Linked DNA regions of Homo sapiens. The protein of the gene in region 1 purifies or fractionates together with the protein of each later gene. This does not show direct contact. Each region holds a gene or a part of one and is shown on either strand. Other genes may lie near its edges.

Region 1 (3,600 bases):
GAGAAGGTTGGCAAGGCCAGCAGGGAGAAGGACAACAGCTGGGGTCAAAGGAAGGGCAAGGGCAGCCCAAGCCTTTTGATCTGCTGCTTTTTAGGGGCCTTCTAAGAAGCGCTTTGCGTTCCTAAAATGGGTGACAGGACTGTGCATGCCCAGAAGCTGGAATCTCTGCCATACACCAAGGGCTCCTGGGTCCTTGTGGCAACAAGGGTTTGGTTGGTTGCAGGATGGGGGAAAGATAACTCTTGGAAGCTCAGCATCTGTAGCAACTTGGCAAATGTGGACAGCAAGTACTCAACCATTGAGGAGGTAGGGTAAGGTGGCCCAAGCTCCTGCTTCTCTCCCTGGGCTCTGAGACTCCTCCAGGCTCCTGACTTCTAACTGGGAGGCCTGGCGCAGAGCCTATCCCACTCTGCTCAGACCAACTGAAGGTCTTTCTGCTGAAGTTTCCCTCCCCTTCAGCCCGCAGGGGGTTCCTGTCTCAGCAGGAATTCATACCAGATTGAAATGAGCAGCTGGGGCTGCTTGGATGGGAGGGTGTCTGGTGGAGAGCTGCGATCAAAGGCTCAGTGTGTGAGGGGCAGGGAAGGAAGAGAGCGGGGTGTTGGTGGGTGGTGGGTGGGGGGTTGTGTGTGCTGGCTTGCCCACAAGCACAAAAAAATGAGAGACAGAGACAGAGGCTCAGAGAAAAAAGACAAGATAAAAGAAAAAGAGAGATAAAGAAAGAGTAACAGAGAAAGAGGCAGAAAAAGACAACAGGCACAGAGACCAGAGACAGAGACAAAGAAAGATATACAGAGACAGAGACAAAGAGAGACAAAGAACAGAGAGGAAAGCAGAAATAGTGAGAGACAGAGAAACATAGAGGCTGGGGATAGAAGAACACAAGGCGCTAGGAAACGGTGAAAGGAGAAACAGAAAAGAGGTCCAGGACAAGGACAGGGAGGCAGAGATAGAGAAGGAGAAAGAGACTAAGGGTCCCGTGTAGTTACTCACTCCACATTTATTGAGCACTTATGCCATGGCAGGCACAGTGGGCGGCACAGATCAATGCAAGTAGACAAATGAAAGGGACTGAGGCTGAGGTGCAGCAATCAAGACGGAAGCTAAGACAGAGATGGAGAAGAGAGGGAGAGGCAGAGATTGCAAAGCGAGATAGAGACTGAGGGAAGGACTGAGAGGTAAGAGAAAGTGGCAAAGACGGAAACTCAAGAAAAAGGGGCAGAGACACGGAGACCCCACAGACAGAGAGCAGGACAAGTAGGGGCAGAGGACAGTGGGAGGAGGGGCCGGAGAAGGGGGCCTGCTCCATGCCCCGCCCAGTCCTTCCTCAGTTCCACCTCCAGCTGTGCTGCCTCCACTCTCCCCAGGCTGCAGTCAGCCTCGGCTCTGGAGGCTCTGGAGGAGGCGCTGAGTGCGGACCGCCTCCTCCGGTCAAATGCTTTTCTGCCTGAGCCCCAGGTCATAATGGAGCCCAGCTCAACTCAGGGGAGGGGGTTAGGCAGTACATGGGCATAGAAAGCCTCGCTTTCACCCAGAGACCAGCTTAAGACCATCCTTTGGTTCCACAGTGCCCTCAGGGGATAGGAAAAGGTGCCGGTCGTGGCGAGGAGGGAAGGGGCAAGCATGTGAATTGAGCTTCCTGAACAGTCAGGGCAGTCGCCTCTTCCTTCCGGGGTCTGTGTGCCAGCCCCCCGCACACCAAGACCTCCCTGGGATCTCAAACTGAGGGAGAAGCCATCTGTAGCAAATGCTGGGCCCTCCCCCATCTCCTCCCACGTCATCCCTGAGAAAATGCCGCAGAGAAGAGGGTGGGCTGGAGAATCAGTCACCTACCCGCTGGTGCCGGGTCTCTGGGCCTGAGAGAAACGCCAGTCCGTGTTGGGCGGGGCTTGCTGTGGAGAAAACAGAGGGAAAGGGGCTGAGTACCCGTGAGAAGTTAGAATGTCACCCGAGCCCCTAGGGATGGGCCGGGAGAGAAGGAGGGGAGTGGGCACAGAGAAGAAAACGGACTAAGAGGGGGCAGGGGTGGACTCATCTCCAAAGACAAAATACACCTCAGGTCTCAGAGGTCTGAGGTACCAGAAACCAAGAGATAAATCACATTTCATCTGACCACAGTGAGCAAGCTGAGACTCCTTTCCTAAAGAAATGGCCCCTTCCTCCCTGCCCCCAGAGTCAGAACTCCTGAGCCAAAATTCAAGGACTGAAGGCATCTTCTGTGGAACTGGGGGAAGAGGTGCAGACAAAGCCCCCTAAAGTGGCAAAGGAGGCTTTTCAATGAGAATTCTACCAGCCCTAGAATGAATTTATTCAACTCCTCAGCTGGGAACAAAGCATCCTCTGCAGCAAGATGGCTGCTGTTCTTGGTAACCCTTTTGGTGCCAGGTTGTGCAGTGACACATTCACAGGGACATCTTCTCTGGGCCCTTGGCTTGCAAGAATCTCTTCCCACAGCTAAATACATTATTAATTTAGGAGTCATGCCAGATTGGGCCTTTGCGGGGCATCCAAGTCCCGGGACACTTCTCACCCCTAGAACTCCGTGCCAGACAATGGTCTGTGACTAAGGAGAAGAGAACAAGGCTGCTCTGTCTGAGACGGAGAAAAATGGAAGGGATGCAGCGGGGAGGGATCCAGCTCCCACAGCCTCCAAGCAGGGCCAACTAAGTCTCCAGGGCTCCCAAGGGGCTGATGTGTAGCCATCTCCCACCTAGCTGAAGGTGTGGGGCTCTGGCCAGCCACTTCATTCCTGAGTCCCTTCTGGTCTTTCCAGGGGGTGTGTTATCCCATCACACACTCTCATGGAGCACTCCTAGAGCCACCTCCTCACTGGTTCTGGGGTGGGCTGGTAATTAATACTCATACTTGCTCCCAGAAGCAGAGAGTGTGAGTATCTCAGATTACTCCAGGGAGAAGGAAGCTCCGGAACTGCCAGTGGCTCACTCAAGGCTCACAGGTGGCAGTGATATGAGCAGAACCCAGAAACCTAGCATTCCAGGTGTATCGGGAGTCACCAGCACCATTCTGGGGCTGCCATGGAGAAGGGCACAGGGATGGCCAGCCCTCAGCCACTGTATTCTTAGACACAGCAGAATCTACATGGAAATGCAGTGATTGTGATAGGAGGAAACGGAGCTGGGGGAACTCAATCTCCAAAAGGATAACTGGCCAAGTTTGCGCTGCGGGGACTGCTCAGAAATGAGGAGCCACAGAAGACTTTCCCCACATGTAAGGTCCTAAAAGGGAAGGAACCCCACCCTTGCCCCATCCCAGCAGAAGCAAAATCCCAGCAGAGGCAACTCCCCTCTCCTGTCCTCAAGCTTTTAAAGTTCCAAGTGCCAAGAAATTAAAAGCACACATTCTGGAGTTAGACAGGGGTTAGAATCTCTCTTACTTGCTCTGTGAACTTGAGCAAGTCACTTGACCTCTGTGAAGCTGTTATAAGAGAGGCATGTTAGTACCTAGCCAACAGCAATGGTGGGAAGAGCAAATGAGATGAGGTTCTCAAAGGAGTTATATAGTAAGTTTCTCTCAATCAGCTATCAAAATCACCTGGGGGTGTTTCAAAATACAGTCCTAGGAGCAGAGTTAGGCATTGAT
Region 2 (3,818 bases), on another chromosome or scaffold:
TTTTTTTTCTTTTTTTTTTTTTGTAGAGATGGGGGGGTCTCACTGTGTTTCCTAGACTGGTCTCGAACTTCTGGCCTCAAGCACTCCTCCTGCCTCGGTTCCAAATTTTTTATGATGTGAGCATAACATTGATTCTGAAACCAAACAACATTAGACATTCAAAAAGAAAATTATTGCCCATCTCATTTTTGCATATCAATGCAAAGCCTGTAAATAAAATATTAGCAAACAGAATCAAGCAGTATATTTAAAAAAAAAAGACAAGTTTATTGCAGGGATAAACTGGGTTTTTATTAGGAATTTATTATAACTAGGACTCATTACTTCAATATGAGGAAATCAGCTGTCACCCGGTTTGCTCGTCCTTACAGACATCTCCCTCCTCTTCCTCTCTTCCTTTCCAGTGAAAATGTCTTCAAGTTTCCTCTACCAAACCAAAACTTCACCCCACTTCTTTTATTCTTTCCTCCTCTCTTCTCAGAACAAAGGGGTTGTTGCTGACCAGCCCAGGGTTTCTTATTTGGGGCCGGATCATTCTTCCTTGTGGGGCAGTCCTGTCCTTCAGGTAGGATGTTGAGGAGCACCCTCGTGTCTACCCACTTAGGCAACAGTAGCAACTCCCGCATCATGACAACCAAAAATGTCTCCAGACCTCCCCAAATGTACGCGGGGCGGCGAGGAGGGGCAACACCGGCCCTGGTCGAGAACCGCTAGCCTAGGCTCGCCCCTCTACCTGGGCGCCACAACTTGCCAGGGTTGGTTATTCTCCCTGGATCCTTTCCTTCCTCCTCATTTGAGCTTCACGCCCTCAAGTATGACCAAAGGTTCTGTCATTCCACTCCTGCAGTTTTCATTAAGGTCTTAGGCCACTTCCATGTCAAGAAACACAGTGGCTCTTTCTAACCCCTGGCCATGAGGCACCCCTGGAGGAGGAGCCGTGAGGGTAGGGAAGATGCTGAGGGGGATGTTGACCTTGCCGACTTCCAGGCGCCTCCGCTGCATCCCGGAGGAGGCGTTGGGCGGTGAGGGTGCAGCGGGGGGGCGGGCCCCGCAGGATGAGGTGTCCGTGTGCGGCTAGCGCCACAGGCAAGACCGGGCTCCTTGCGGGGCGGAGGTGAGGCCGTGAGCATAGCTCTCAAACTGGAGGGCGCCTCAGAATCACTTGACGGGCTTGCGAGAATGTGGACTGCTGGGCCCCACCTTCATGGTTTTAGTGCAGGAAAAACCGAATAGGCTGGGTGGGACGGAGAATCTGCATTTTCTCAAGTTCCCAGATGAGGCTGAAGCTGCTGGTCCGGGCACCACCCTTAGAAAACCTCCAGTGTAGAGTGCGGAAATGGGGTCCACATCTGGCTTGGGACGCCCAAACATCGATTATGTGCGACCAGAGGATGAGCAGATAGGGAGATGAGACACTGAGAGCTGGGAGAGAGGGGGCCCCCGGCCGCCGGCTGAAGGAGGACGGCGCAGGCGGCGGTCCGGGTACTACATCTCCCAGCGAGCCCCGCGCGGCTCGCGCTCGCCCCCTGGCGGCGATGGCTGGAGGCGCCGGCGGAGCGCGGGTCCCTCTCCTGAGCATCAGTGAGCGCCCGGAGCCGTGGCCGCTGGGGGTTGCGGCGGCGCTGAGCCAGCGGGGCCGGTGAGTACTAGCCGCGCCGCCAGCCCGCCCGCCGGCCGGCTCTTTGCGCCTCAGCCGCGTGGTCTGAAGGGATGGGCGGGCGAGCGCGGGGGTCCGGCAGTCCGTCGTGGGGGCACGGGACTGCCTTTCTGGGAAGGCGTGCTGCGTCTTCGCCGCGGGGGCCCCGGTCCCCTCGTCGCGTGTCCTGTCCCCAGCCCAGGAGGGACGTCCTGGCCTGTCCTGCCCGGCCCGGAGCGGTGGGACCGGTGCCGCAGGTGGCAGCGGCAGGTGGCCGCCTCCTCCCCTCCGGGCCCGAGGGTTGTCGCAGGGACCCGGGACTGAGAGCCAGGTGGCTCCCGACAGCTGCGGCCCTGGAGGCGACCCCAGCCCTCGCCGCAGTGGGACAGGTGCGCGGGCACGCCCGGCCCCGGCTCCTGGGTCTCGGGAGCCTCCCGCACCCTCCCTGTTGTGCCTTGGGGGTGCTGCGTGGTGCAGAGGACCGAGAAGCCCTTCGCCCTCGGCGTCCGCCGCGCTCCCGCCCCTTCCTGGCCGGGGTGACAGGGGAAGGGCTAGGGCTGCGCATCCCGGGTCAGCTGGGGCGCCGCGGCGCAGTGCACCTGGAAGGCCCGGGGGCAGCGCGCGGTGCCCGTGGGTTTCCCGGTGGTGCGGACCTGCGGGCGTGCGGAAGTAACGACCTCCTTCCCCAGTGCCCATGCAAGGAAATTAGTGTTATGTGCTTGCTTTTTTTTTTTTTTTTTCCTAAGGAAGTTTGACTCTGAATATCTTATTTTGCTGGAGCTCCATTTGCCAGCACGTAAGTTTATGTAATAAGCGGCATACAGTTCGGAAAAAAATTTTCCTGTGAAAGTGCTCTTCCTTGCCCTCTGCAGGAAGAATTACGCCGAGCTGGTTGGCAGGCTTATCCACCAGCAACTGTAGGAGCTGCAGGCAGCAGATAAAGTGTTTTTTGAGTAAGGGCACAAGTCAGCCCTTCAGGACAATTTTTGTTTTTGGAAGATTCTGTTATCCAGTTCCAAACACCGTGTTATTTCAGTGTTGAAGATGGGGGAGGAGGGAGGAGCACAGGCTTGTCAATCCTAATACCTCAACAGAAATTAGCTTTGCAGGATTAACTCTCCAAGCAAGCGAGTTGAATTTGGTAGCCCAAACTACAGCTGAAGCTGAGCCTCCATACTAAAGCCTGTCTCAGTTTTAATAGTTTTTCGCTTGATTCGTTTGCCTCTTCCAAGTAGGTGATCTTATTGTCTGTTAAACAACAGATGTCTCTCATGTTTTTACTTTTTTCCTTGTCTTCCATAGATTACTCTCGCTGCAGTGTTGACTATTGAGGTTAAATAGGAATCTTTGTCTTGGGCTTGGTTTTAGGGAGCATTCCCTCTGTATCTTCACCGAGTGTATTCTATCACATTAAGTACATTTCTGTTTATGCCTAATTACTAAGAGTTTAAAAAGTCAAGGGTGGGTGTTGGGTTTTTTGCCCAAATGCTTTTGTGTAGCATGCATTGATATGATCATGTAGATTTTCGTCTTAAAATTGTTAACATAAGTGGTGGTCACATTGCTAGATTTTCTTTCTCTAAAACCCTGGGCTAATTTAAAATGCACTTTTGGATTGTTCACATCAATAAGCTAGCATCTTATTTAGGGTTTTGGTATCTGAGTTTGGCATATAGTTTACCCCATTTTTATCTGTGTTCATAACAAGGATCAGGCTGTCCTCTCTGATTAAATTGGGAAACTTTCCATCATTTTCTATGCTCTGGAATAGAAGAATTATCTGTTCCCTCAAGTTTGGCAGAACTTGACTGCAGACTGCCTGGGCTGCTGCTGGTGTTGTTTAGGCAGTTAATATCAGTATTTAATTACCTTTTCATTTTTTTCATGATCATTTATTTTTCTCAGTTTTTCTGTTTCTTCAAAGTAAATTTAATATTTTCTGTTTTCCTAGAAAATCATTAACATTATTGAAATTTAATATATGCTAGCATAATGTTGTATATAGTATTCTGGTGTAAGAAAACAGACTCTTACATATCTGTATGTATCTGTATGTTCTCTTTCTGATACAGTACTTTTTTTGGTACCTTTTCTCTTTTTTTTTGATCAGACTTGCTTAATGATTATTTTATTAATCCTTTCAAAGAACCAGCTTTTATTAACCAGGATTTATTGATTAATT

Evidence for each region.
Region 2: the proteins of PCDHGB1 (region 1) and SPECC1 purify together in Homo sapiens (co-immunoprecipitation; 3 studies listed by BioGRID and IntAct, with this or other methods). This does not show direct contact.

What each region holds. Positions count from the first base shown.
Region 1 is NC_000005.10:141,493,099-141,496,698, reverse strand, and holds part of PCDHGB1 (protocadherin gamma-B1 isoform 1 precursor), read right to left. Parts: intron 1,893-3,600; coding exon 1,834-1,892; intron 1-1,833. Other genes in the region: PCDHGC5 (protocadherin gamma-C5 isoform 1 precursor), read right to left, coding at 1,834-1,892; PCDHGC4 (protocadherin gamma-C4 isoform 1 precursor), read right to left, coding at 1,834-1,892; PCDHGC3 (protocadherin gamma-C3 isoform 1 precursor), read right to left, coding at 1,834-1,892; PCDHGA12 (protocadherin gamma-A12 isoform 1 precursor), read right to left, coding at 1,834-1,892; PCDHGA11 (protocadherin gamma-A11 isoform 1 precursor), read right to left, coding at 1,834-1,892; PCDHGB7 (protocadherin gamma-B7 isoform 1 precursor), read right to left, coding at 1,834-1,892; PCDHGA10 (protocadherin gamma-A10 isoform 1 precursor), read right to left, coding at 1,834-1,892; PCDHGB6 (protocadherin gamma-B6 isoform 1 precursor), read right to left, coding at 1,834-1,892; PCDHGA9 (protocadherin gamma-A9 isoform 1 precursor), read right to left, coding at 1,834-1,892; PCDHGB5 (protocadherin gamma-B5 isoform 1 precursor), read right to left, coding at 1,834-1,892; and 11 more. UniProt on the Homo sapiens protein: Potential calcium-dependent cell-adhesion protein. May be involved in the establishment and maintenance of specific neuronal connections in the brain.
Region 2 is NC_000017.11:20,007,786-20,011,603, forward strand, and holds the start of SPECC1 (cytospin-B), read left to right. Parts: upstream 1-1,573; 5' UTR 1,574-1,639; intron 1,640-2,377; exon of another isoform or gene 2,378-2,432; intron 2,433-2,735; exon of another isoform or gene 2,736-2,867; intron 2,868-3,818.